Regions from separate parts of the Homo sapiens genome. Here all the other regions are reported to be linked to region 3. The links are microRNA targets in miRTarBase. Many come from high-throughput screens and were not tested one by one. Region 3 holds a microRNA gene; each other region holds the end of a gene's coding sequence.

What was found. The annotated mature microRNA hsa-miR-616-5p reads ACUCAAAACCCUUCAGUGACUU and lies in region 3 at 2,239-2,260, opposite strand. An mRNA with a match to its seed (bases 2 to 7 or 8) in the 3' UTR can be bound and repressed. Matches are read on the target gene's strand: a 7mer-m8 pairs with bases 2 to 8, a 7mer-A1 pairs with bases 2 to 7 and ends in A, and an 8mer does both.
Region 1: the mRNA of AAK1 is a reported target of hsa-miR-616-5p. Seed matches in the 3' UTR shown: 7mer-A1 at 4,138-4,144, 7mer-A1 at 4,305-4,311, 7mer-A1 at 6,138-6,144 and 7mer-A1 at 7,093-7,099.
Region 2: miRTarBase lists ELAVL2 as a target of hsa-miR-616-5p. Seed matches in the 3' UTR shown: 7mer-A1 at 4,331-4,337 and 8mer at 4,432-4,439.

Annotation. Positions count from the first base shown.
Region 1 is chr2:69,468,267-69,479,438 of GRCh38, reverse strand. AAK1 (AP2 associated kinase 1) reads left to right here. Exons shown (of 22, transcript NM_014911.5): 20 at 378-488; 21 at 2,449-2,559; 22 at 3,476-11,172. The coding sequence ends at 3,570. Among named protein-coding and RNA genes, the nearest start is that of NFU1, 36 kb to the right of the region's middle.
Region 2 is chr9:23,684,988-23,696,159 of GRCh38, reverse strand. It overlaps ELAVL2 (ELAV like RNA binding protein 2), which reads left to right. Exons shown (of 7, transcript NM_004432.5): 6 at 2,674-2,712; 7 at 3,276-6,056. The coding sequence ends at 3,603. Among named protein-coding and RNA genes, the nearest start is that of ELAVL2, 140 kb to the left of the region's middle.
Region 3 is chr12:57,516,985-57,524,081 of GRCh38, forward strand. It overlaps MIR616 (microRNA 616), which reads right to left and starts at 2,275; the gene lies at 2,179-2,275. It overlaps DDIT3 (DNA damage inducible transcript 3), which reads right to left and starts at 3,530. Exons shown (of 4, transcript NM_004083.6): 1 at 3,434-3,530; 2 at 722-769; 3 at 285-454; 4 at 1-196. The coding sequence starts at 422. It overlaps LOC128125814, which reads right to left and starts at 3,496. Exons shown (of 2, transcript NM_001414991.1): 1 at 3,434-3,496; 2 at 728-769. The coding sequence starts at 3,496. The coding sequence ends at 728. It overlaps MBD6 (methyl-CpG binding domain protein 6), which reads left to right and starts at 5,840. Exons shown (of 13, transcript NM_052897.4): 1 at 5,840-6,027; 2 at 7,045-7,097. RefSeq lists enhancers at 2,366-3,327, 3,298-3,427, 3,302-4,501, 3,328-4,287, 4,288-5,248 and 4 more and silencers at 3,498-3,957, 5,672-6,071.

The DNA.
Region 1 (11,172 bases), not on the chromosome of region 3:
ACCTATTTAACCAGCAACCTCTGAGCAAAAAATTATCCTCTATTTCTATGTTAATGTTAAGAGGAATCTAGAAAGACATGTTTCTATAGATGAAAATCCAGAAGCCTCCACACATTTCTTTTGGTTTTCATTCTCCCACTTTGGCTTGTATGTGTAACGTGTAAATGCAGTAACTTAAAAGCTAAGATCTAATCTCATGATACAGATGAAAATCCAGAAGGCTCCACACATTTCTTTTGGTTTTTATTCTCCCGCTTTGGCTTTTATGTGTAACGTGTAAATGCAGTAACTTAAAAGCTAAGATCTAATCTCATGATATTGTTGTGTGTGCCACTTAATGCCATCACTGACCTGGGATGCTGTTAATCTGGACTCAGATTCTCTCACCGGGGAAGATTCCCTGCTTGATTGCTCTCTGCTCTCTAACCCTACTACTGACCTTCTGGAAGAGTTTGCCCCCACAGCAATCTCTGCTCCAGTCCATAAAGGTAAATGCTTTCTTCTTCTCAGGCCCACATGTGTCCTTAGAGGGGAAAGAACTAAACAACTTTTGAAAGTTTTTCTTATCAAAAGTCTTTACTAGTGAAGTTTTAAAACTACCTCCTTGTATGGAAAACTTGAGTATCTCCTAGATACTGTGTTATAATACCTCTCAGTGAGAATATTTACTAAGACTTAGACGACCGGCCAGTTGTGGTAGCTCAGGCCTGCAATCCCAGCACTTTGGGAGGCTGAGGTGGGAGGATCACTTGAGCCTAGGAATTTGAGACCAGCCTGGACAACATACGGAGTCTCAGTCTCTACAAAAAAATTTTTTAATTAGCCAGCCATGGCAGCATGCACCGGTGGTACCAGCTTCTCGGGAGACTGAGGTGGGATGATTGCTTGAGGCCCGGAGGGCAAAGCTGCAGTGAGCCATGATCGCACCACTGCACTCCAGCCTGGGCAGCAGAGCAAGACTCTGTCTAAAAAAACAAAAAAAATAGCAGACAGGTACTAAAAATAAATAAAATTAAATCTGAAAAAAGCCCTAGACAACAGATTGGTGAAAGTATTGCTTTCTGGCAAGAACATAGAATGCAGATATTCCATGTTACCTTTAAGAGCTAGATACCTTTGCAGTCAATTCAAGTAGATGGTTGAAGTGACTATCTACTGCCTGCCTATAATGATCATATGATGCTTGTTGGCCTTAGAATGTAAAATGGTTTTATCATATCTGATTCAAAGTTATTGCATAGTGATGACTGCAATAAAGAAATAAGCATCTTTCCTCAAAAGTCAGTCCTTGCAAGGTTGAACTTGTAGAAGTTTTGAATTTTAGTTCACCTTCAAGTCATGATTGGTTACTGGATTTCTCTTTCTAATCTACTATTTTCATTTTTCAGTCTTGGGTTAATAGTGGTCTGAAATCCTGGACAGAGGTAGCTTGAATCAGATTCTATTCAATGAGCAGTTTGTGACAGTGTCAGGCTCAATGCCTGGCTTACTTTGTTACTGAACTTTCTGTGATTGGGTAGTGAAAGTAGTCTTCTGGAAAGAGAAAATGTGTAGAAAAGAAAGAGCTTAAGTCCCTTCAGGAGAAAATTCAAGAAGGAAGCCTCCCCAGAATGACTAAAAATAATCACCTCTGTGGTTTGCAATGGTAATAGCTGAGTTTTTGTTTTTACCCGTGATGACATTAAAATGATTATGTTTTTATAGATTATGTAGAGGGAAGTTACCTATTTAGACAGTGATGTCTGGCAGGAGTATGTCAGCAGCAATGTAGAATTACAGAGAAGCATCATTTGCAAAATAAGTGCTCAGCCAGCACTTGCTTGCTGTTAGGGTAGCTTTAATTAGAATGGAGAAGACTATTCTAACAAACTTCTACTTGAGGCCTCAGTGCGTGTGATCTTGTGCCTCAGCGTTCCCTGAGGCTTCTGAGTTGTTTCAGTGTCTTTTTTTCCCAGTCACAGTGCAGTGAGTCCTTCCAGCAGTATTTTGTTTGCATTATATACAGTGGTTACTTCTTAAAGAGCCACCAATTCTCTTCCTCCTCCCCTGCCCTGCCCCCAAGCCCCGGTTTTGAGTTTTTCAAATATTGTTTGGCCTCTGTTCCCTCAGTGAAGACAAGTGACTTATTCCTATGCCTTTGTGGATTAGTGACAATGAAGAGATACCTCACAATAATTATAATTAATGTCTTATAAATAATAGAATTCTTCCAAGAACCCTTTTCCCTAATCATTATAAAAGTCAACATGGCCAACTCTAAAGCATTTTTTTCTATATCTCTGTATTTTCCAGTTTTGCTATTTTTATTTCAACTCAGAAAGATAAATCCTTTCACCTTTGAAAATAACAGGGCTGTACAGTTGAGATCTTTGTGCCTCTTTCACATTCTCTCATTTGCTAATCTCTGCCTCTGTTGTTTCTGCTTGTGTACTTGCATTCTGTATTAAGCTGCAGAAGATAGTAATCTCATCTCAGGTTTTGATGTCCCTGAGGGCTCGGACAAGGTGGCTGAAGATGAGTTTGACCCTATTCCTGTATTGATAACCAAAAACCCACAAGGTAAGAAAAAGGATGGGGAAAAGAGAAGAGCTTGGCCTCAGTTCTCTTCAAAATAGTCATGCACCTAATCTGCAAGGGGGAAGAAAAGCATCAACATTTAATGAAGGACATTGGGTGTAATGAGAATCATTGTAGGCTGGACCAATAGAGATAGATAGAGATAGGTATCTTTAAAGTTTGACCGTGGTGTTTATTTAGAGAGAAGTCTTTAACAGTTGGCCAAAAGTTAGTTTTTACCATGAAGCCAAAAGCAAAATGATCTTTAGTCAGTGGAAACCTGAAGGTATATATCAAAAGCACATCACATTTTTTATCATGATTAGAATAATCCATAATAAATATTTTTCCCAAAGAGATTAACAGCTGTGTTTTGGTATCATTCACATCTTTTTGACATTAATGGAGCATCCTTTTTCAACTTTGATGGAGGAAAATCATGTGAACATGCCATAAAACACTAAATTACCATGGGACCATCTATTTATTTTTTAAAGCATGTTCTTATTGCAGTATCTTAATAACTAGTTTCTCCCCAAAGCAAAAATTATTGATTTTTACTTTATCAAAGGGAGATGGCTTGATATTATCAGGAAGTTGGTATATAGCCAGCAATTCTCAACCAAAAAAAGTATTGATTTGAAAATAGTGCCCTCTTTGCAAGATGTCCTACCTATACTGTGGTGTGCACAGAGTGCCTGAGCTTTTGGTGGGAGGTGGTGGACAGCTAACTTACATGTTTCAAAATCAACGTGTAAGGGTTTGCAAATGTAAAATATTGCTTCTCTAGGGTTTGGTTTTTTTGGTTTTTTTTTGTTTTGGTTTTGGTTTTGGTTTGGTTTTTCTTCTTTGCTTGCTCTGCACATCTAAACCTTAACCCTCTATGTTTTGTACTGAATTCCTATCTCTCCACTTCCAGGTGGGCACTCTAGAAACAGCAGTGGGAGCTCTGAGTCCAGTCTTCCCAACCTAGCCAGGTCTTTACTGCTGGTGGATCAGCTCATAGACCTGTAGCCGTGACCCAGTAGCAGATGCAGTTCTGTAACCTTCATACCGTAAAATACATTTTCATTACGGAGTTATGAAAAAAATGATTTTTTTAAAAAAATCTGCAAATAAGGGGCCCTCCAGCCCTTTTCTCCTACCCCTTGCCTTCTCCTGTAGAAATGATAAGGAAAGAAAATCACTTTGGCCCTCCAGATATTCCTTGGCCAGTTCCTCCTTGTTAGTTTGCTGTGTTTTCTCATTACCCTTCTTCAATAGCATTATCTTAAATCAAGCACTAGATGCCATGAGCTTCACCTCTGCTGGAATCAACTCCACCAAAAGCTTAACTGTAACTGAAACTAGTGAATTGACACTTTTGTCTCGTTCTTGCTAGGAATGGCCTCCCAGATCAATTCTCCCAACCCCCGTCTCCTTTGGCCAGATGCTGATGAATGTATTTCCCTGTTTTTGCTTTTTATCCTGATGCATTATCATGAGGACATGGCTACTTCAGTTGGTCTTAACTCTAGGCAGTAGCCTGGAGATGGGTGTGTGGTTTAAGAAAGGGTAAAACTTACTGACTGGTAGTATATATTTGAGAAGAGAAATTGAGCCCAGCTCTAGCCAACCAACTTTGACCTTGTTTGATCATAGACTTAGCCAAGGGATTTTACACCCCATGCAACCTGCCCAGCATTCGTCCAGCTTTCTGGCTTCCATTGAACCGTGATTTCTCAGATCTGGAGACGTGACTGCAAGTATTTGAGATCCTTGGATACAATGTGTACGTTATATAAATCCCAAGTATTGCCATTCCTTTTCATGTTAACTGTTCCAAGTGGGATCTCAGAATTAGACCAAAACAAGACGGTGGTAATATGATACCTTTTATTAGAAGACTTTTCACTGGGGCGGGGGTGGGGGGAGGATGGGGAGGGGAAGGAATTGTAGCAGAAACAGATGTATTTTTCTTGTGATTTTTATTTTGAATCAAATATTGTAAATTGTGTATAAATGAAGATGCTGAATAGTTCTGTTTCCACTTGGCATTTCAAGTCTGATATCAGGTGTCTGTACAGGGTTTTGATTTCTTTCCCTTGTATAACTACACAACAATCCTACAGTGTAACATATGGAATCATTTTGAATAGACTTGTGTGCTATAAGCTTTCAGCAGGTCCTCTGTCTCTAGAATAAGCATGTTGTTTATTTTCAGATAATCAGAAATAAGTGTGCTGACAAGCTGGACACAATCTGGGTGTGCCCAGCTTACCTTTCTTTCTGATGTTTAAATTGAAGGCTGCAGCCAATGGAATATGTTCAGCTGGTTTTCCTTGGCTTCCTAGATTAAAAAAAAATAATAAAGCATAGTTCTTTATTAACTTTAGGATATTGTTCATAAAATAAATAAAGGCCCCTGCACTAACATGACAACATGCCTCATGGTCACCCTCTCTATATGTACTTACTCATTAAAGTGTATTTTATTTCCTTATGTGGAAAGCACTTTTATAAAATCACCCTTTTGAAAAGAAGTGGGCACAGAGAACCCCACTCCTGTTCTTTTCCTCTAGTGCCATTGTCCATCATCAAAAGGGAAACTCTTAGTTAATCAGATCTGTACAAATAAAATTCCAAGTCCATTTGCTTGTTTTGCTATCTAGTACTTTTGTTTCTTCTTCCTCACATTTGCACTTTATGGGGGAAAAAAGTTTAACAGCAACAACAGCCTATAAAACACTGCATTCTGGAGGGCAAGGTTTGACCCTAGGAATGTGCGAGTAGCCTTTGAAAGGCATTGGAGGAAAAGTCTGAATCTTCCAGCCTTCCTTCTGTCTTTAAATACTTCCCGTGCTGGCTGAAACAAGATGAGCTAGGTAAAGGCCTCTAGTTGAATAACAGACCATTTCCAAAACTGAGAGAGGCACAAGCTTCCTGCCGAGGATTAAAAAGCAAAAGATATCCACGAAGGGCTCTCTGTGGTTGGATAGCAGTGAAAATAGGACTTGGTTTACCCCTTTATGGACAGGAAAATTGCTGCAGGTCAGAATTGTATTCTCTTTCCTGGACATAGAAAGAATGTATAAATTAATGAAGGAAATGTTTATTTTTAAATAAGAATAATGTTTGAGTTCTATGTTTTCATATTTGATTTTTTTCGTATATACATGTTAGAAATATAATGAAATATCTAGTTTCTCAATTTAATTGAAACTATGAAGAGTACAGTTTAGAAATTAGGTATCTCTAAATTGTTCTTTTCATATATTACCCATAATTACATTGAAATATATTATCTAGTCATTTGGCTCAGTAAAGCTTAATGGAGGCAGTTAATGAAAATGAGCAGACTAGAAGCCAGAGACGGCAGTAGAAGCCTAAGGGAGATAATGACAAGAAATTGTCTTGGGCTTATTTAGAGTAAGGCCTCCTCAAAGGGGAGAACTATTTTTCTGTTAAGGAACACATATGAGTGCTTTGGTAAACGGAGCCTTCCTTGGTTTAGAGCATCATCCCTGAGCTGAAAGAGTTTATTTGAGTTGAGCATAGTGTCCTGGTACCTGTGGAATCATAGCCTGAGCTACAAAGGGACCTTTGAGACCATCCTCTAGTCCACCATCCTCTTCATTTTACAGGTGTGGGACCTGAGCTGGATTGAACAGGGTCGGGGGAGAAGAGGCCTGGGCAGGACAGGCCACCTGGGATCTCATCCTGGCCCTTGCCAGCCACTGGCTGAGTGACCTTCAGCAGGCACTTCACCTCTCAGAGTTGCTGTTCCTTAGAGTTATACGATGGGTTTGGACTAGATGGTCTTTAAGATTATAGAAGTATAGGGTCCTAAGTATATATTATTATATTGAGAAGGGCTATGAAGGATTTATATAATCCTGATGTTCTTCAGTTATCTTCTGTAGTTCCTGCTATTACGGTAGCAGTGTTTACATTTTAAAGAATTATAATGGGCTTTTACTAACTTGCTCTTTCTTGATTATCTGAATAGAAGCCTAAATCATAATCTTAGAGATTTTCCTTTTTAAGTATTACAGAAACACATGCGTGGACACACACCTACCTATTCTAATAAAATGGTATCAGAAGATTTCTTTTTAAATGTATAATCAGGCATCTACCAGTTTAAAACGGGCAAATACTATAAGCATATGTTTCTGATTTGCTTTTATTCCAGCTATGTAAGAGGAGTAACTATAGCAGAAAACATGACAAATTGATTTTTCCCTTTACAACATTCAAATGAGTCCCAATGTTTTCAAAAATACATACCTCAGAGGAGATAAGGCTTAAGTGGACACTTCTAAGTATGATTATAATTATTATAATTAATGATTTCTTTAGCAGACATATCAGAATTTTGACATCTAATTAAGTGTTGTTCCCCTCAATGTCATCTAGTTTTACTTAAGAAGTTAATACTTATTCTAATGATGCTGCCATCCTTAAAGTTATTTTTGAAACTCCTCTCCTTAGAAATAATATCAAGGAAGGTAATAAGGTATAAGAAAATCAGCTATATTATTTAATTAGTATCACTTTGAGAAAGCACCTGGAAGTATATTCTTTCTTTGTCTACTTTTTCTACTACTCTTGGTTCTGAGTAACATTTAGCCATTTCCAGAAAGCAAATTCAACCCTGTAAGATGAAGAGTGGTTACTGTTGAAGACAGTAAAAAGGATAATCCACAAAAAATTCTCAGAGAGGACCTTATAATAGAAAGTGAACATGATTAAGACTTAATTTCTGTAATTTTCTGAATAAGGAAACTTCTGTGATTCCTTAGTCTTTAGAATGGTTTAAAACATTGAAAGATATGGGTATTAAAACACCTCTGAAAGAAGTTGTCACTTTGTTCAGTGTTATTTGATATTGGACTTCGCTCTTCCTGAATTAGAATTACACAACTTGGATTGCTAATACTTGTGGAAAAACAAACCCAAGAAACGAACTACTTTCTCAAGATGTAATATTTGTTTTATTATTAATACTTTTGGTTGTTTTGATTACTTATTTCCTACTCTCCTGACAGATAATTGATCAACCAATATAACCTTCCCCAGGTTAGGAACAGTTCTGCCTTCAGCAGTGCTGTGGGAATGAAGGGATCTTTGGGGCTGACAGCCTATGATGTGGAGGGATCTGCACTCAGCTAAATAAATACATGCTATAGATACCTTGGGCCAAAATAAAGTCTCTCTTGATAAGGTTTTTCTGTGATTTCCCAGAGTCCTTAACCTTCTCTGTCTGCAAGATTATCAGGCTCCCATAGCCACTAACTTTGAGCTTTGGGATGAAAATGACAGGATTGCCCAGTGTGCCGGGTTAAGCAAATTAGAGGCTGCCTGGCAGAACAGAAAAACTATCACATGAATATTTAGAATGGAAGCTTTCCTGAAACACTCCAGATACTGCAAAGCTATCTTTATTCCTCTCTAAAGGCTATAATTTTATCAACACAAAGTCAGCCTTTTCTTTTTCCACATTAGTAATGTTTCTGAAGTTGGATGTGCTTAGATTTCTTAAATCAGAATGAGTGCTAGGAAATCTATAACAAGAAACCTCTTTTGCTTCTCCCAGATTTCCTTTCACTAATACGGGATAGGGAGGCTCCTTGGGTAATGCTAACCTATGCAAAGAAGTTACCAAATGGTGGTAGTTGCTAGAATTAAAGACACGTTCTTGGTTCACACTTTGATGTAGTGACCTGAATTTACTCTTTTCCTGTGAGTATTCTACTCTGCCCTATTGCACTCTCCTTTGTCATGTGGATGTGTGTTTATCATAGGTCTTTAACGCGTCCTTCCCAAGAAGACAAAGCATACAGTTGTACATGAAGATATCTTATGCAGTAAAAACGTGAAATTTGAACATTGCTGCACAAGTATTGTATAAAAAAAAGTCTGTAAAGAACTTTCTTATGTAAACATACAGGGGAATAAAGACTTTTATCTGTTCAAATGGGAGCATGATGTTTAGAGATGTAAATAACTTAAAATAAGTTGCTCTTTTCCTGAGCTGAAAACCCACTTTTTTGCAGAAAGGATTTAATCACAGTATTGAGTGACAATAAGTACCTGGGCACAAGAAAAGTATAGCTACACACTGAGGACATATTAATGAATCATGGCTACCTGAGAGAGTAAAACCCCTGTTTTAGTCTCAAGGAGAATAAGACGCCTGCCAGCCTACACTGGATATGACCAGACTCAGGGTTGTAAAATGGAGCGCAGGTTTGCAGCTTCCCTCCTCTAACTTAATCCCTAATATACCCAGGCCAACTTAATTAAACATTTTGTGTTGGCAAGAATAATTTTATCCCCAGTGAGAAAACTCACTCATTTAATTGCCTCATTGGCCTGAGAGGCACAGCTGGCCATTTTTGGCTTCCATGAGGTCCCTCATTTCCCAGTCGTGGGTTTTAATGCAGCTACCTAATATATGGTGGAACCAAATGCTTAATTTTGTTATGTGAGCTAGAAGGTCATGGTAATTATTAGTTTGATGTACGTCTCTTGATTTCCCCAGTTTGGTTCTAAAATTTTACGTTTCAATTGCTGCTGCATTTCCAAGTTCTTGTGAAGGGATATTTTGCTTTCTGTTTACTAACTATATGTGAGAAGGCTTCTTCTCAATGCTCCAAGTCTTCGTTTTCTGTTTTTGGCAAGAATCATATCTTTGATACTCCCTGTAACCGTTCTTTCAGTTTTTGGTATGAGGAAAAGTAAACTTCTGGTGTTGTGTGATGTATTTCATTAAGGAATATCCAGCCTGACATTTAAGTCTTCAGATTTTAATTCTGTAGGGAGCATTCTGATGGCCCTCACTATGTCAATCAGATGGAGTTTCCAGGGGAAACCCATCCTAAATGATTCAGCACTTTGGGTTGCTTTGGAAGTGAATAGGGAGCTGGTGAGGATAGTTGCCAAGTTGTCAGGTATTTTAGGAACTCCTTCTCTTCCCTGAAGCATGTGAGTTCTTGCTGAAATCTACATAATTTGGAGCCTCAAAATAGACTAATATGGAGTTACCCATATTGAAAGTGTCAACGTGCCTAACCTGGCACACAGTCCTACATCAGAGCAAGAAAAAGAAGTATGTTTTGACTTCTTGCTTAATTTTATGTGTGAAACCAAAATAAAAAGAGGCATGATCCAGTTTGAGGGAATTATAACAAAACCCTACGTTAGGCTCTATGATAAGTAAGACCCTGTGCAGACTATGAAGCCAGGCCCTGGGCTTTAGCCCCTGAGGTACAACAGGCAGTGTTTACTGAGCTCTATGGCCACAGGGTATCTGCTATGACGTGCCATTGGTTACCAAAGGAACTGGGTCAAGGCATGTGGTTAGGTTAGTATAAATCCTTCAATGCTAGTAAAGAGACTGCTTCAAACACGTTTTCTTGTTGACACAATGCTACCTTCATATAAAGGAACTGTTCACCCTGAAAACACATTTTCCCTGTAAGAACACATTCACATACTCAAAAAAAGACTTTTATCTGCCAACAAGATTTAATGGTTACCTTCTGTTTCTAGTATATTTGGAATTTATCCTTCTCTCGACTACCTTGTTTCTGGTGCTGCCACCACCAGAATTCCTTAAGGGAATGTGGAGGTCTGGGCTTCCCCCATATTCTCTGGCATTTCTTTGCCCTTCAGAGTGCCAGGCCTGGAGAGTTGCAAAGTGTGGTTGCTCTCCGCCTCAGCCACACTGTACCTCCTCTAACAAGAATAGAAAGGTTAAGGGACTTGGCCTTCTCAGGACAACCCTTTAAATGTACTTTTCCATTCCTACAAAGCCTGTTGATGCTGAAAGAAAGATAGGAAATAGCTCTTGTCCTTGTTTTGAAGGACAGGAGACTAATTTTCCCTTCAAACTTGATATTCTGGTGTTTTTGTGACTGTTTTTGTAAATTATTCAAAGTTGTTGGAATTTTAAGTCTGATTTTCCCAGTACTCATCATGAAGGTCATAGAATATGCTCTGAGTTGGAAGGTTTTCCAAATGGGTTCTCGACCAAAAACCCACTTTTTAACAAATAATTTTGATGGGTTAGACATGTTCTTCCATCCTCTCCAACCCTGAATATGGGCACATACACACACCCCTTGGTACTTCCTAGTTCTCAAAATGTAATCTAGCACTTCAGGCATCCAAAGTGCCCCTGGTTCAATAGATAGCTGCTTTTTTGCCAGTCTCTGTGCACAAATTGTTTTAACTGAATTCAGTTTAAATTTCCAAAAAACACTGACTCTGTTCAAACTAGTGTTCATTGGATTATTGACCTGTATGATGCCAGAGTTGGTCACTGGCTTGACTAAGTTTTCCATTTTTTTTCCCTAAGAGATATTTTGCTCTCCTGCAGAACAAGCTTAATAACATCAACTTTCAAGGTAGTTTTGGAAGATGAGAAATTGTGCTTTTGTTTTGGCAACTGAAAACTTTGTCCAACTGATACTATGTGAGGAAGGTGGTTCAAGGAGTTTTAGGGCCCTCTTGTCCTTCTTTAAGGCTCTGCAAACCTTATTTTGGAAAACTTATTTTTCTCCCTTTTATTTGAATTTCCTCCCAGAAATTATCATCTTGGTATCACTGAGACAAATCTAATATCAATTT
Region 2 (11,172 bases), not on the chromosome of region 3:
ACACTCGTTGGTGATGGAGGAGAAGAAAGATTAGAGTGGATAACTTGGCTTAGTTCCAAAGGACCAATTTTTTTCTAAAATGAGAGAGAAGTGAAGGAATCAGTGAAGATCATGGTATCATGTAAAACTTCACAGATAGGGTAAAAAAGATGCCCTATCATAATTTGGAGGGTCCTCGGAGATCCTGTTATAAAAAATTCGAAACCTCCTGTCTGGGGATGCCAGAGATGGAAGTGAGGGAGATGGAGGATGGAAAACGAAATGTTTCTCCCTCACTGCATGTACAGTCATGCATCACATAACGTTTCAGTTAATCACATGTACGACCGTGGTACCATAATATAGTAGACTGCAAAAAATTCCTATTGTCTAGTGATATCATAGTCATCCTAATATTGTGCAATGCATTACCTTTTCTATGTTTAGATATGGTTAAATACACAATACTTAGCATTGTGTTAGAATTACCTACAGTATTCAGTACAGTGACATGTTATACAGGTTTGTAGACTGGGAGCCATAGCCCATACCATATAACTAGGTGTGTGGTAGGCTATTACCATCTAGGTTTGTATAAGTGCATTCTATGATCGTACAACAACGAGATCACCTAGTGACACATTTTCAGAACATATCCCCATTGTTAAAAAAGGCCTGACGGTAATTCACTTCAGGGGCAGATTTGGTTTCTACCCTGTTTGAAAATTCTGAAAACTCATCTGTCTCTGGGCCGTATGCTTGGTGTCCTGAGTGGGTGGTAGCAAAGCATGACCTGTCCCTACATGGATGCAATTAATGGGCATAGATGATGTAACTTTTGAGTGAATTGATAAGGTGCCTCTGCATTCTGGGTCTTCTAGCACTTTGGTTGGAGACCTCAGTATGCGGTTCTCTTCTACAGGTAGCATATGCCAAATGCATTCTGTGTTGATCATTCCAGCAATTTGATAAAATTGTATTGTTACTTTATGATTGGTGGTGCTAATATGTGTTTGTCTTTATTGCTGGTAGTTGTGATCCTTATTCTTGACTATAAAGGCATGGCATCTTTGACTGTACTCACCTCTGCAAAAAATAAAACCCCACATCTTTTTACTTATGTGCAGACAAGGTCATCCAACCAATCCTCTTACTAGTTTTCATTCTGGACTAAGTTGACCATAATTTTGGTAACCTCATTGTCTTTATTTGGTCATCACATATTTATTATAAACTATCAGTGACCCTGGCTTGTGCTCAGTGGTGCAATGAGAGGGTGGTGGGTCAAGGCACGCACACACACACACGCACCACGCACACAGAGACACACTCACACACGAAGATCTTTTGTCATTGTGATCTGTTCTGTTTCCTTACACTTTGCATAAGCTCAGTTCTTCTCATCTTTACAAAACAGAATTTTCAGTGGAGACTGAGGGCAGGGATGTGGGAGGCTATATATTTCCCCATTCTGAAAGACCAGATGAGATGTGTTTTGGCTTTTACAAAACTAAAAGGTGTTGGCTTTTGCATGTATACTTTAGCGTGACTTGATGCCACAGGTTAGGTGATAAGGCTGAGACTTTTCAAACTTACCTTTCACGGGTGTTAAAGAAAAAATTCTCACCCCCACCCCCAGTCCCAGAGGGACAACCCTGGGATGTCTTTGGAGAGTGTTGAGCATTGTAGCAGTTGAGGGTGGTTGTGGACTATGTATTAAGTTATGCCTCCTCCTCAGAACACATAATTAGTTGGTAAGCACTGTGGAAATTTGGGACATTAGAGTGGTGTTTTGAAACTGATAAAGAAGAGTCAAATGCTGTAAAACTAATATTTGATATAGGAAAAATGTAGAAGGTTTTAAAGAGTACTTACACCTCCACCCCCACCCCTATTTACTTTCTATAAACATTTTAAGTGAGGCTCAGATTGGCTTGTTTTGTTTCCTACCTGGCCTTTGAAAACTGAGTAGGACGACACTTCCTGTAGCGTAATTTGAATACAGCATCCAGATCAGGATCTGAACTCTTGGCTTTGTTGCACACTGGAGTGATGGATTTTTCTTTTTTCCTTCTCTAGACCTCAGCTGAGCACATTTGAGAAATGGGAGGGTTAGCTTGGGTTGTCCATAAGGTTTTTTCTACCTGTAATTATACCTCCTTGATTCTAAAAGATGAAAGCCCTTCAAAGTTGGGAAATGAAAGGAAAATGTATAGAATTCTGTAACCTGCAGAGTTTGAGTATCAATGCCATAATTTACTAGCCCTGTGGTCTTGAGCAAGCCACTTAAACCCTGTGTGCCTTAGGTATCTGCAGGCACCAACAGAGTTGTGAAAATCAAAAGTAGTATAAAGAACATGTAGCTATACATTGATCACTTTGAAGCTACCTGATGAGAACCCTAAAGTTAACTATCCCAGAGCTTTCGCACTTCCTCTCTGAAAGGTATCCTCAGATGACCGTCACTGTGTCCCATGTACTGACCCTTGTAGAGAGAAACCATTCATTGGAAGAACTGTCCTGTGGCAGTCGGTGCCCATTAGCTTAAAAACGTAAAAAGACCCAGCATTCTGAGTCTTCACATATAATCAGTGTACAGATATCCCCTCGGAAGATGGCAGTAATGAGCCCAACTTTCTTGAACATCAAGGGGAAAAATTAAAAACTGAAGTTTGCTAAATGTGTGTTTTGCAGGTTGGACAATCTGCTCAATATGGCTTATGGAGTAAAGAGGTAATGATAGAGGTTCATGATACTCATAATCCCTTTCCACAGTTGATTGGTTTCTTTGATTTTGGGAGTGCTATTCACACCCCTCATAAGTTTTTGTTGGGTTTTATTTTGCATGTGCAACCTAATGAAAAGCTGCTCTTTGAAGCACAATTGACTCAAGAAATTTTTATACCACCGGATGCCACCTGGTCTTTTAAAAACCCATCATTTGTTTCGTATTGCGTTACGACGTTACAGCATGTTTACGTATGTGTTGATCCCTTCCCCTGCCAATCCTGCTTAATTCATGAAGCCAGTTCTAAATATATTTCTTTGCTATTGTGGATGATATTCAGTACAGTGAATAATGGTCATTTCATAACTTATTAATATCTCAGTAGTCTAGCATGTCACTGCAAAGCCACACACAGACCTTGGTCAAAACATGAAATAGTTTATATATTTGTTGGGGGAGGAGAGTTACTAAAATTCTTGGGGATGGAAAAGGTATACGTTCATTGCTATAACCAACCTCTGTTTTTATTTTTTGTGTGTATGTGTGTATTTCCTATTCTGTTTAGCAGGTTTTCTCCAATGACCATTGACGGAATGACCAGTTTGGCTGGAATTAATATCCCTGGGCACCCTGGAACAGGGTGGTGTATATTTGTGTACAACCTGGCTCCTGACGCAGATGAGAGTATCCTGTGGCAAATGTTTGGGCCTTTTGGAGCTGTCACCAATGTGAAGGTCATCCGTGACTTTAACACCAATAAATGCAAAGGTTTTGGATTTGTGACTATGACAAACTATGATGAGGCTGCCATGGCGATAGCTAGCCTCAATGGATACCGTCTGGGAGACAGAGTACTGCAGGTCTCCTTTAAGACAAACAAAACGCACAAAGCCTAATGAGCTCTTGTCCTCAGTCCATTTATATATGAAAACTATACAACAAAGGCAAGTTAAGAGAAACTTTATACATTAGTAAATGTCTTTGTAAGTCAGTGTTGAGATGGGGATAAAATGACTACTTAGCATCCTAAGAAATATGTGAGATTTTTTATTGCTAGTATTTGAATTAAAACTTCTTAAATATCTTTTATGTTTGAATATGGACAAGAGGTACAGGGTTTTTACCTGTCACATTGCATTCTATTGCCTTCTTTGAAGAAGGTGGACCTTTTAAAGTGTTTCAGCTAAGGGAAGACATTTCTTTTCTTTTTACATAACTGCCTTGAACCTGTGAGTAAATATTGAGGCTTTGTGTTGTAATTCTTCAGTTGGTTGTGTCTTTTTTTTCCCCCCTTTTTTTCCTTTTTCTGATTAGCTTTGTGTTTGGTTTACATTTAAAGCATTGCTGTTATGTCTGTTTAAGAAAAGTATTTTGAAGTTTACATTTTTATTTATGAAGTTTAAAACAGTATTTATTTTGTAATTATGATTTGGGTTGGGGAAGGGGGGGCTACATTATAAACGCTTATTGTAAGAATACTGGAGAACTTTTCGTAAAGCAGTACCTTGCCAAAGAGATAAGAGCCTCTTTGATGTGGGTTTAAAAAAAGCATCTATTTTTATAAAAAAGAAAATTTGGAGAAACTTTTTACTGGTCCTGGAACAAATATTTTGACTTGAATACTTTGAGAAATCTCTTCATATGACACCTAGTGAGCTTTTAAAATTTACCAGGAAATTTGCAGCGGTTGGAAAATTTAGAAAGATTTATGGTGTAGAAAATACTTTTGAGATCTTTGTATGAAAGGAGTAGAATCAATGGGGGGAAACACTGCTGGTTTCATTTTTGTAATCACCAGTGGAGCGTCTGATCATCCTGGTTATTATGTGATAGGTGGCTCACATTGATTTGTGATTTTGAAACAAATAAAAAAAATTTACAAAAGAATATATAAGAGCAGGCAAGAAATTTAAATTACCGAGAGATGGGGGAAAAAATCTGTTCTTCCTAAAGAAATCCCTTCAGATAGAGCTCATGGTGTTTAGTGATGTACTTGCAGTATTGTTTGAAGAATTGTTTTGTCTTAAGGAAAAAAGACGTTGCACATGATTTGTACTGCAGCAAATCAGCAAAAGTGATCTGAGTTGGATATATTTGAAGGTATTTTGAAAGTTACGTTCAAGGCTAACACCTGAGCTTTGTGTAATGTAAATAAGACCTTGTGTTTATGAACCTTTCAGCTAATTTAATTTTTTTTCCCTTACATGCCAAGTGATGTTCAGGTTTTGAATGTTTTTGTATCAGTTTTTTCCTTTGTAAATGGCATTAACATTGTTACTTGAGGTCTTGCTTAATCACTTTTGTTGTCCTGAGGACTTGAATTTACAGTGCATCAGATTTGTTGCAAATTTTGTCTGTAGATAGTCTAGCTTCAGCTGTTTATGGTGATGCTACATTTTGGTTTATAAATATGTTTGTGGTATAAAAAAATGAGTATAACCATAGGTTTTGAACAAATTTCCTTACATTTTTCATACAAAAATCATAAATATCTGTATGCTATTGAAATTTAACTTTGTATGATGCTTAAAAACCACTATTTGGGGAAATAATAAAATAAGTCTTTACCATGTATGAAAGAAATTTTAAAAAATACAAAATATTTTCTGATTAGCATCTAGCTTATAATAAATTTTCAAAAAAGCTGAAGGCAAAAATGCCTTCATCAGGATGCACTGAGAACTATATAGTTACGTCCTGCTTTTTGTATAAACTGAGATGCTCACATGCTTCCCCTTAGAACAGGCAATGTGCTATGCATAACATAGTTGTACATTATCTTTGCGGTTGCTTTGAGTTTTATTTTTTATTATTTAAAATTGTAGTTATAAAATTTTTCAGTATAGTACAGTACATATACTGTGAGGCGCGTGCTAAAGTGAATAAGCGAGTTTTCATGCTGACCCACTCAATGCTATTCAGAAATCAATTGGCTTAGCACTTTCTCATATCCTTAGGTGCATTTAGATTGCCAGAGTTAACCTTCTGCGTTTAAAAAAAGAAAAACACTAAAAAATAAAATACATGTATATACTTAAAAAAAAATAATAAGGTTTCCCTCAAGGGAAAACAGCAGCTACATGCTTCTTTCCTATACTACTGTAGCAAACCAAGGCATTGATGAGAGGGCATGCAAATTGTGCTTCACTTTACAGTGTTTTATCAGAGCACTTAATAAAATGTAAGGCTGGTATTTATTTGAAGTTGTACAGTATGACTTAATTCACATCTGTTGGAATAGAAAATATATTCTGTTGAGTATTTAAGAGGCTGTACATGTTTTCTTTTGTGTTTGGATTCTTTGTACTTTTTCATGTTCAGTACATCAATAAACAAAGTTGAAGGGAAAGAACAGTGTGGTGAGTAGGTCTTTATACACAATTCGGGGGCACCTGTGCTCAGTCTAATAAGCAGACTTGCTTTCTTGAATTAAAAGAAGTTCCCTGAGAGTTTTAGTGGAAAGCAGTGTTACCTCTTAGAATTCCAAAAGGCAAGTTAATTGAAGTAGAACGTGCAGAAAATTTTTGGACTGAATGACACCTTCTGATTAGTTTTCAAATACTGCTAAATGAGTAATTCTCACAGGAGAACATACTCTCATCTGCTAGTTGTAAAGTTTGGGAAATCGGATATCGACACCATTTTATGGCTGGGATTCAACCTTCAGCTTTTTGCACAGATAATCACCCTTACACGTCAGTTAAAAACCAAACAGGAGGAAAGTAGCTTACTCGGCTTCCACTGGCAATCTTTAATTCCCTCATGGGATTAAGTGTTGCTGTGTGAAAGTTACTTTTTTGCACAAATGCTAGATTGTCAAGAGATTGTTCCCTAAAATCAGAAATTCAGTTTCTGTTAAGTTAGTGTTGTTGTGTGTCACACACGTTACAAACCATGAACTCTGCCAACCCCGTATTTCGCATAGAAGTTCAGTTCTTGTATACACCCTTAACAGATCTGTGAAGGTTAAAAGGATTTCCTGCTGATCTTTTGTGAAAGGATTCTACTTCTATAGAACTTCAGACAAATGAGTATAATAATGAAACACTTTTTTTTTAAACAAAGTATACTAAATGACTTATTTTAATTTTATTGTATCTGTCGGCTTTTTTGGTAAAAGCCATTCTAAAAGTAATTGTCTTGAATTCACAACCTACTAGTCAAGAGCGTAGTTGAGTGACAAGACACTTCCTTTTTTCAACATGCAATTAGTCTTAAATCTCCATACTCCCTCTTCTTATTATATGAATTTAATACTCTAATTTTGTGATGTTGGAACATCCTCCCCTCACCTCTCTCCTCTTGCATGTTTTATCGGTATTTTGATTGGTTTGCATGTCAGCAGTTCTTTTATAATTGAGCAGATAGTGGAAAAATTCTCAGCAAAGGAAGTTGGTATAGTAACTACTGGTATATTTGAGGAGAAATTTCGTCTTTCTCCCTTTTTTTTTTTTTTTTTTTTAACCTGTGCTTGGAAATTATCTGAACAATATTGAAATTCAGTTTTAGAGCGGCCTACGTGAAATTCTTAATGTTAACATCATTTTACATTATTATAATCTGAGAAAAAAATGTTAGCAATTTAACCATTCTGTTTTTTTAAGATAAACAGATTGCAAGATTTCTACTTTTTATAAGAGGTTTACAAATGAATTGTAGTGGAAACTGACAACTGCTTGCTTACAGCGTTACCTAGAACAAAGAAAATGTGTTTTTTAATAAGTTTGTTGAAATTGTAGTACCTAGGCCTATTAACCTACTTATGGAGCAATAGGCCATATACCTTTTATTGGGTAGAAGAAAAAAAGAGGGGCATTTAGCTTTTTTATGCCTCTATTATAGTGGAACCTCAAACAGTGGGACCAAACAAATACTGATAAAATCGTGACAGTTTATTATTATTGGATGAAGAGCATTTATAGTCTGTCATTGCAGTTAATAGCCCATATTTTTCTACTTCTAGTAGTAGTCACACTCCTCCTCTGAAAATTTCCAAAAGTAGGCCCATCTCCCTTCAAGTTGCAAAGATTGAATATTTACACCACTATTACAGGCATCCTGTGGATATAGGATGGACCTTATTGAAATTAACCTTTCTAGAATTCTGGCTCATAAAAATAAAGATTTTTTGGTTGGTCAGCACATAGTTAACTATCTACCATACTGTGCCCTGGGTCTATAAAAGTGAGCAAAATACTGCTCTTACCTTCTTGGATACCACCTGGAAGGGAGGACTAACAAGCCAGCAGGTTACGACTGCAACGTCCTAAGTGCTATGAGAGCCCAGGAGCAGCTGTCAAGCTACTTTGCTGTAGTTTTTATAAATGCAGTTACAACTCACAAAAGTAAAACCTGTTCTACTCCTCTTACAGATGCTTCTTTTCCTTTCTTGGACTAATTGTTGGCTGATTGTTTAATTTTCAGTCTGACAGTGGTATCACTTAGTTTTGCAAATCTTTGAACGCTGCCATGCTCAAGTTGTCCAGATCCTCTCTTTAAAAAACGCAAAGCTACTAATAAACGATAAGACACTGTCGATCTGAATAACTGGATGGCGTGAGGTATCTGGCTGGATAGTCTTGCTCTCTCTAAACATAAACTATGGAGTGACGATTTTGAATGTACTAATATAGTAAAGTACCCTGGATATTATAAGTATGCTTGATGGGTTTTACCCTACCTTAAGACTCACCACTATCTTAGGATCTTAAACTTAGTATTAACATTACTTTTGGTTTAAGTAACTAAAGATATGGGTGAAGACTACGTTAATACTCAGCCTCAAAATCACTCATAGGTGTTTTTTCAAATAAATACCTTATAGCAACCTTATAAATACAAGAAAACAGTCTATTTCTGCAGACATAAATGTGTGGAAGACATACGCCTTTCTGCTCTCCTGGAGCCTGTCATGCTCTAGAAGATTACATCTGTAAGTAACTACAGTAAAGTGTTGTACACAAAGTGCATTAAAAGAGGAGGAAGTGGGGAGACTCCTAATGTTGCATGTAGTCGTGGAGAAGGTTGTTCCTGGGATGGGAATGCTGAGCCACACAGAAGTGGCAGCAGTTGAGCTGCATCAGTAAGGGTAGGTGGGATTTTAAAAGATACCCGGGGAGGCAATTCAAGAAGACATCCCTGGGATCAAAGACATAGGCAAGCCTCTACCTCTATTATTTCTGGAGAATTAATAAGTCATATTCAGTCTAGACTTAGGAGTTTGTGCCCATGACTAGTTAAGTCTAAAAAATACCTAAACAGCAAAACTTTTTTTCTTGCCCATTTCTACTGCAACACTAAAAATTACTTGCCATGATAGGTTATGTGTGGTTTGGGGAGTTCCGTAGAACTTGGTAGGGACATTCCTCTCTTTTAAAAGAGACATTTATTTGGGGTGTGTCAGGCAGTCAGTGTATGTGAAAAGATCAAACAAAAATAGAATCTCTCCAGCAACAGAATACTGATCTTTTTCTCCCACTATTATACCTAAAAAACTCTATTGTTCAGATGATAAAAGTTATCATTTTTTAGGATTTATACTATTTCTAGTGTTACAGTACCTGATTCATTCCTTTCTTGGATATGAATTTTACACTCTTCTTACCTGTATCACTCAAGCATCACCTTCATCGAAGGTGAGGGAAAAATTATAAAATTCAAATACTTCTCAGATATATGCAAGATGAGGTTTTAGTTTGATAGGATGCCCTTTTTTTTTTTTTTTTTTTTTTTTGGTGTTTGGAAACTCAATAACCATTTCAATGATGAACCTTGCTGGGTTTTTTTAATCCTGTAAGGCCCTTTGACCTACAGGTTGTTGATAGCCACATGCTACCTCTAATGCTGATTTTCATGGTGTACTCCTTTTGAGAATGCTCCTCGTCCTGTTGAATGCATGCTTCAGAAACAACCCGCCCATCTGCGGATTTTCTTGCAGACATGATGAGACCAGCAGCCATTCTCAGGGTGACTCACTCTTTGGAATGAAACACAGTTGGCAAGGTAGTTTTGTTATCTGGATTGCGGGTTTTTAATTGCAGTGTGGCAAAGGTGCAGCAGCTGGCCATGAGAATGGGGGAGGGAGGTCATGACCCATAAATCTATGTAGGCATCCAAAAGATGCAGTGCTTCATTCCTTGGACCTTGAAGAAAAAAAGCAGCCCATCAGGAAGTACCATTGAGCACCTTGTTGAAAGAAAATCCCCGTACTTTTACATCCATGTTGTAGATCATCTATTTCTTTAAAAATGTTTTGTTATGCCTTAGGTGTAGTAGTAATTATAAGAAATAATGCAGATTTTCACACCAAGAAAAAAAAAACCTGGGTGACTATCAGAAAGGTTAAGCAGATATTACTAGAAATGCTGAAGCAGAAATTGCAGTTGTTACTTTATGAAATGTTCTTTAGTAGAAATTTCATCTCTTGAGAATGGTTGCTGCAGTGTGTTTTCTGTATGTAGAGAACTATATGTTGAATGTATTCTGTTTTTCAGGGGTTACTCTTAAAGAAGTACCTGTGTTCTATTCATACATTGCATAAAGAAGTCCTCTTTGCTTAAGTAAACTGCTACTTATGTTTTCTGTCTTAAGATGGCCTGAGGACCAGATGATAAGCCAAGCATTCGGTCTTTCCTACATAAAGGGTGGTAAGAACTTTTCATAAATTTAGTCTGAAACTTATCCTCATCCTAATAATGAAAATTTATTTTATTTTTTGCTGAAATAGTAGTACATTTTAAAAGTTGTGCTTCCCAAGCTCGTTTATGTCATGAGTGCCTGTCCTGAGGGGGAACCTTTATCTCCACACACGTACAACCACTTCTAGGCCAAGCAGCACACCAGGGCTTATGTGTGGGAAGCTCTGATTTAAATAGTTTACTTTTTTAAAATTTCCTTTCTTTCACTAAGTGTACATCAAGCATCTACGCTGTACCAGTCACTATGCTGTAAGATTTAGGCTGAAGACTTAATCTATGTTCTATTTCTCAGTCTGGTTTTGAGTTGGAAGACACTTCAGTGGTCTTGTTCAGCACACCTTATTTTGCAGATGTATGAGCCAGACCCAGAGAGATTAAGGTTCTCCAAGATTTTTTGCTAACCTGAGACCTGGCACTGAAACCCAGCCCTCCCCCACTCTTGGAGCTCTGTCCTTCCTACCATCAAAGTACTAAAACACAAGCTGAATTAACTTTAATAAGCTGTGTCCTTTTAGGAGGTCAGATTTTTGAAATCCTTCAGGATATGTATGGCATCTAGAAGTTGAACATAGGTAAGTGCATATAGTATTTTTTGATGTGCTCAATATCGTTTACCTCCCTTAAGAATAATTTCAGTCAATAATAGTATAGTCACTGTCGAAAATGCATAAAGTACAAAAAAATTCAGGTCAAAATTTACTCAGTCCTTTCATGGAAAGAAAACATTTTTTAGTACATTTTGTCGCTGCCTCTTTATTTTTAATCCTT
Region 3 (7,097 bases):
GGGAATGACCACTCTGTTTCCGTTTCCTGGTTCTCCCTTGGTCTTCCTCCTCTTCCTCCTGAGCCAGGGAGCTCTGACTGGAATCTGGAGAGTGAGGGCTCTGGGAGGTGCTTGTGACCTCTGCTGGTTCTGGCTCCTCCTCAGTCAGCCAAGCCAGAGAAGCAGGGTCAAGAGTGGTGAAGATTTTTGATTCTTCCTTCAAGGAAATGAGGAAAGGGAACATAGATATTAGTTGAGAAGGGAAAGGTAACATCCCCCTTTAGCTTTAGGGCTAACATTCTTACCTCTTCATTTCCAGGAGGTGAAACATAGGTACCCCCATTTTCATCTGAAGACAGGACCTCTTGCAGGTCCTCATACCAGGCTTCCAGCTCCCAGCTGGACAGTGTCCCGAAGGAGAAAGGCAATGACTCAGCTGCCATCTCTGCAGTTGGATCAGTCTGGAAAAGCACATCTGCAGGATAATGGGGAGTGGCTGGAACAAGCTCCATGTAGCAAACAGTCTATGCCACAAGTTGGCAAGCTGGTCTGATGCCTGTTTTTGTAGGTAAAGTTGTACTGGAATACAGCCACATCTGTTTATTTACATATTGTTTATGGCTGCTTTGGTGCTACAGTGGCAGAGATGAAGAGTCACGCTAGAGACTATAGGACTTTTAACATCTAAAATATTTACTGTCCTGCCGTTTAAAATTTTTGGAAAAGGGTAGGTTAAGTTTACCTGCTTTCAGGTGTGGTGATGTATGAAGATACACTTCCTTCTTGAACACTGTGGGCAACAAAGAGAAATGTCAGCCATTTTTGGAAGGGGGAGAGGCAACTTACTTTTCTTTTTCTTTTTTTCTTTCTTTTTTTTTTTTTGAGACCAAGTCTTGCTCTGTTGCCAGGCTGAAGTGCAGTGGTGCGATCTCGGCTCACTGCAACCTCTGCCTCCTCGGTTCAAGTGATTCTTCTGCCTCGGCCTCCCGAGTAGCTGGGACTACAGGCGCGTGCCACCACGCCCAGCTAATTTTTGTGTTTTTAGCAGAGATAGGGTTTCACTATGTTGGCCAGGATGGTCTCCATCTCTTAACCTTGTGATCCATCGCTTCCCAAAGTGCTGGGATTATAGGCATGAGCTACCGTGCTGGGCCCTTATTTTTCTTTTACCTCCAGCCTCCTACTGGTCCTTCCTTACTTCTGGTCTTGTGGGGTATGCATACTTGGTCCCTGTAGCCATTTCGAAGGGCAGAAGAGGGCCTGACTTTCTTTATTTTTAGTTGCTGACATTTGTAGTCCTGGTTACATAATAGTAAAGTCCTGGCCAACTCAGCTTTCTCTAAATCCAAAGCAGGCCTCAAATCTGCCAGGGTAAAAACTAAACTACAGGGAAGGGAACAAATCATAGCATTTTCCTAACTCCATTCCCACAGGGCTGACATCCTCCAAATGTACATTTCCAGTCTGGACCTCTTCCAGAACTTCAGACTCTGCTGTCTACTGCCTACTTGCCATTTCTTTTTCAATGTCTAATAGGCACCTAAGACTATGTGCAAAGGCAAACTCTTGCTGATTTTCCCCTTCCAAGGTCATCCCCATCTCAGATGACAACTCTAGTTGCTTAAGCTAAAAACCTTGGTATCATCCTTCATTCCTCTTCTCTCACACCCTGCAATCCAAAGTACTAGCAAATTTTAACTCATTCCTTTTTTTCTGAGACGGGTCTCACTCTTTTTGCCCAGGCTGGAAGGCAGTGGCGCAATCGGCTCACTGCAACCTCCGCCTGCTGGGTTCAAGCGATTCTCCTGCTTCAGCCTCCGGAGTAGCTGGGATTACAGGCATGCACTGCCATGCCCGGCTAATTTTTGTATTTTTAGTAAAGATGGGATTTCACCATGTTGGCCAGGCTGGTCTTGAACTCCTGACCTCAGGTGATCCACCCACCTCTGGTCTCCCAAAGTGCTGGGATTACAGGTGTGAGCCACCATGCCCGGCCCTTAACTCATTCTTTAAAAATGAGTTTTTAAAACCTTTGCTTAGAAGAATCTAAACACTTCTAATTCCATTGTTTCCAATCTAGATCAATTCACTACCATCTCTAAATTACTGCAGAAACTTTCTGACTGCAGAAGGTCTTCCCATTTCTTCTCTTGCCACCCCTCCGCAACTCTATTCACCATACAGCAGCCTGAGTGAGCCTTTTAAAACAGGTCATTCCTCTGCTCAAACCCTCCAATGACTTCCTATTTCATGTCATGGAAGTCACTGAAGGGTTTTGAGTGGAGGAATTACCTAAGGTAATTCCTGACCACCTGATGTAACACTCTGACCTCCATCCTGAACATTCTCCATTCCTTTCTCTGCTTTAGCTTTCTCCGTGGCACTTATATTTTGTTTACTGTAGGCCTCCCACTGAGATGATTTTTTCCTCTTGCTCAAGGATGTACCCTGAGCCCCAAACTGTGTGGCACACAGTAGGTCCTCATTAAGTATTTGTTAAGAATGAATGGATAAACTCCCCCCAGTCTCTCTTATAGGGAAGGGGCAGAAGCAGAGTGGCAGCTGCTGATCCCTAGGGGCTAGAGATGCAATATTGCCCGAAGTATTTCTCTGCAGGGCTGTCCTCCCTGGGGAACCCTCCCTTGCCTTCCAGTGTGTGGGACTTGGCTTTCATCAGCAGTAGAGCCTCAGGTCAGAAGGCTGCAGAGCCAAACGGGGCTGGCCTGATGCAATGGTTACACAGAGATTAGCTGGGAGACAGGACCGGGTTAAAGAGGCAGGGACTAATCCCGAGGGAAGGACAATACCCTGGGGAGACCCCAAATGGCCTCCTACACTTAAGAGATCCAGGCTGCTCTCTTGTGCAGGAGGCCCAGAGACCTCTACGGCAAAAGGAAAACACACCACTCCCTGTCCATCGGCACCCCTCCCAAAGGCTTGTGTCTCCTCAAGGTTCCCCTATCCGCTGCAGGGTCCAGTAGCCCCAGCTACCAAGGTGGCCATGCTGACACCAGAGGCACTGAGACTGAGACAGAATTGGGGGTGGGGTAGGGAGAAGGCCCGCTGGTGGCGAAGCGGCGGAAACGGCCTGAGCGATGGTCACCCAGTCTTAGAGCGGGGGTGTGTCCTGCTGACCTGCCTCCCCGCGGACAGGCCTAACGATGAGGCCTGAAGTTGGCTACGGGAAAGAATGAATTTCCCAAGGGCAACCGAGGTCCCTTTGCCCAGCAGCACAGAGCAGGGCCCGTGTTCCGGCTCCGGGCAGGGGTGGAGAGACGCCGTCGTCCGAAGCAATAGGGGTTTGTAAGCACCACCCCAGAATAAGGGACTCTCCCCATTCCTCTCTCGGACGGTCCCTAACTTCACTGTGGAGGAGTGAGGCCGATCCTAAAGAGCGGACGCCCCAACTTTGAGGAGACGGGAGGGTAAAAGGTAGATGGGAATCAGTACTCGCCTCTCTCCTCAGGTTCCAGCTCTGATTTTGGCTCTGTCGCTGCCACCCGCTCATCTTTAACATGATACGCTCAGTGCCTTAGACTTAAGTCTCTGACCTCGGGAGCGCCTGGCTGTAATCTTTTACCATGGCCTTGCCCTCCTCTCAGGGGCGGGACCCCAAAACCTACCAATCAGAAAGTGGCACGCCGGCATTGGCCCCGCCCCGTCCCTCGCATCCGCCACTCAGGAGCCCCGCGGCACCGCCCCCGTCGCTCCCTCTCGCTAGGGGGTCGACGTAGTGTCGGACCCGGAAGTGGCTTTGGGTCACGAGGCTTCACGGAGGAGGTGGGTGAGTCATGCGCGCGCGCGGAGGGGAGTGTAGCGGGGGGGGAGGGGAGGAAAGGGGGGCGGGGATGATGCAATGTTTGGCAACCGGTGTCTGCACGCGCACGCGCAGGGGACACCGAGGGTGGTGGGAGGTGCGGAGGGTGGGGGAGAGGAGAGAGGGCGGGGCGCCAGCTCCCGGCGCCCAACGGCCCCAACGGCTATCAGCCTTGGTCGCCCCTAGTCGGTCGTGAGCCTCTTTGCCGCTTGTCTCCCCCAGAAGCTGCTGTTCCGCCCACCTAGCTTTACCCGCCGTTTTACCCCCACTATAAGGGACTCCCATATTTCTTGGCCCCTCCCAGCTAATGGGCACATAGGCCTTTTGAACTTTTCTTTTTAAAGTTGGTATCCATCCACTGGGATTGTCGACATCTCGAGTCTTCTTAAAGAGGTCTCCTGGCCGGGCTCAGTGGCTTACGCCTGTAATCCCAGCACTTTGGGAGGCTGAGGAGAGCGGATCACTTGAGGTCAGGAGTTCGAGATCAGCCTGACCAACATGGTGAAACCCCGTCTCTACTAAAAATACAAAAATTAGCCGGGTGTGGTGATGCGCGCCTGTAATCCCAGCTACTCTGGAGGCAGAGGCAGAAGAATCGCTTGAACCCTGGAGGCGGATGTTGCAGTGACCGAGATCGCGCCACTGCACTCCAGCCTGGGTGACAGAGCGAGACTACGTTTCACCAAAAACAAAAAACAAAACAAACAAACAAAAAAACGGGGGTGGTCTCCTGTTCTAGCCCCGTAAATCTCCCAAAAGGGGCCGAGGTACTGGAATCCCTTGGTAGTCATTTTCCGCTTCTCTCAGAACAGCGCCCTTGACTTTTACCTTGTAGTTGGTAAGCCCTCAGCCTGCCAGAAGTCATGTATTTTGCCCAGTGGACCCGATTCTGTTTGGCCACCTATTTTCCCCCACGGTACTCCTATGGCTTTCTCCAAGACCCTCTCTTGCTGTACCAGACAGCAAGTCCTGTGACTCCCTGTGTGAGGAGCGCGGCACAGGCCTGCCTCCTAGGTGTTCGGGTCGAGATTTACAGCGGAGTCTCATCCCGGGACGTGTGAGTGCACTTCAGCGCAGGACTGCCCTGGACTGGGGAGACCGGAGCCGCGATTTTAGACTCAACTCCCCATCACTTGCCAAGGGATCTTACCGTCCTTGTTTGTAAATTAAAGATAAAAGTTGTGAAGGTAAAATGAGAACCATGAACTTGGAGGCAACTTGACCAAAAGTAAAACGCACCACCCAGAATGCAAAGTATTTTTCTTGTGCCTTGAAAACAGAGGCCATGTGGTGGCCTGTTACATATCCTGTCATACCCTCATGGGGGCAGCCAGAGTTTAAGTAGAAACTGTCACAAGGCCGGTTGTGACTGGAGTGGTGTGGCAATGACAGGTCTTTGGTTAGGCTGCTCCGCTGCTCCACACCTCCATTTCCTCTCTGAAAATGGGGGTAGTGTGGAGGGTGGACCAGATGGTCTCCCCTGGCCTAAAGACAGACCAGGTTGTCAGTGACAGGCAGAGGTCATGTGACTTGACAGGCTGAGGTCGTGTTGTGACATGTTGACCTGGGGAGGCGGGTCAAGTCCCAGCACACTACCCGGGAAGCCTTTGGGGCGGGGCAGGGCAAGTCGCGACTTTCATCTTTCGGGGCCTGGCCCCTCCCGGACCTGGCATTCCTGGTTCCCGCAACAGACTGTGGCTTTGGAAGGGGCCCCTCCCTGAGGAGGGCTGGGATTGGCCACCAGTGGCCTGGGAAGAGGCGCAGATCCTTCCGCGGAGGGCGGGGGGGCCGCGTGGGGTGTTTGTTCTCTTGGGGATTAATGGGGGGTTGTGGGGGAGGGGTAGGCGCGCTCCCGCATGCGCACTGCAGCCCCTCCAGTTGGCTCGTCGCTGTCCGCTGGGCGGGGGCCCGGCCCCGCCCCTCTCCCGTCCGGGCAGCGGCGGAGGCGGCGGCTCCTGCGGCGGCGGCTGCGGCAGCGACGGCGGCGGCGGCAGCGGCAGCAGCCTGCGCAGTGCCTTCTGGGAACGGAATCCCCAGGGCTGCCCCTGGCCCCCATGGCGCATGCGCGGGAGGCCGCTCGGTGATCCGCGGCGGCGGCAGCGGCGCTTCCTGCTAGGACCGGCCGGGGCCGTACCGGAGGCTCGGGCTCCACCGACCCTCCTCCCACCCCCTCCCACTCACCCTCTGGGCCGCGACTGCGCAGGGCGGGGCCGGCCGAACCATGGGCCGCGGTGAGTGCGGGGCCCGGCCCCCCCCACCCTGCCCCTCCCCCTCCCGTCCCTACCCTCTGCCCCCTCCGCGTCCTCTCGGCCCCTTTCCCCGGCCCCATCCCCACTCCCCCGCCCTCACCTGCCCCCGCCGCTTCTCCCTCTCACTGCCAGACTTCTGCCTTCCTCACCGCCCTCCCCTCAGTGCTTCGCCCACCCTCCGCCCGCCCTCTCCCCAAGTTCCTTCCTACTTCGTGCGCCTTCCCCTCCTCCTCAAGCTGAGGGAAGCAGTCTGGGTGACAGGGCGCCTTGTTGTGAGAGGGAAAGTTTGGAAGCCGCCAGTGTGGGGTGGGAGCAATGGTGAGGCTGGGGAGGATACCTGCAGGTTGGAGGGGCTTCCCCTTCTATCGGAGGACAGGCTCTCTTGGAGATAATCGGAAGCCAGTGGAATAGGAGGTTCTGAATCCCTTTGCCGTAGGCTTGAGGGAAAATCAGGAGCTTCCCAGGATCCTGGGAGAAGACTGAGCTGTGATCCTCACCTCTTAAGACCCGAATGAACTATATCAGCGATTGTCTGATGGAGCAGGCATGGGGGGAGTTCTGCTGGTACCACCCCAGCGGGCAGTTGGGCAATTGCCTGGTGACCTGTGGGGCAATCTGTACTTTTTATATCATCTTCCTGGGTAGAGAACAACAGGAGCCAGACACTCTGGGAAACTTCCTAGTGGCCTAGCATTATGGGAATGTGCCCATACTCCTGGTTGAAGTCTTCTACTCCGAATGGAGGGAGGCCTTGCCCTTCATATGCCTAAGAATTGGGCTAGACTTTCTTGGTCCCAGGGAGCTGAGGTTCTGACCCTCTGGTCCCTAGGGACTGGGCTTGGAAAGGATGGTTGTAGACTAAGCCAGCAGATCCCCGAGATCTTTATAGGTGCTTGCCTCACATTGTTAAGGATCTTTCTTTTGAGAGGGTGCTGGGCTGTGCTGCTCTTTAGAGTTGGGCAGACTCCTGACAGTCCCATCTCTCTACTTGCGTTGCAGGTGTGGGCTAAGCTGGTGGCCCCGGCTTTAGACTGGACCCCACAATGTTTGCA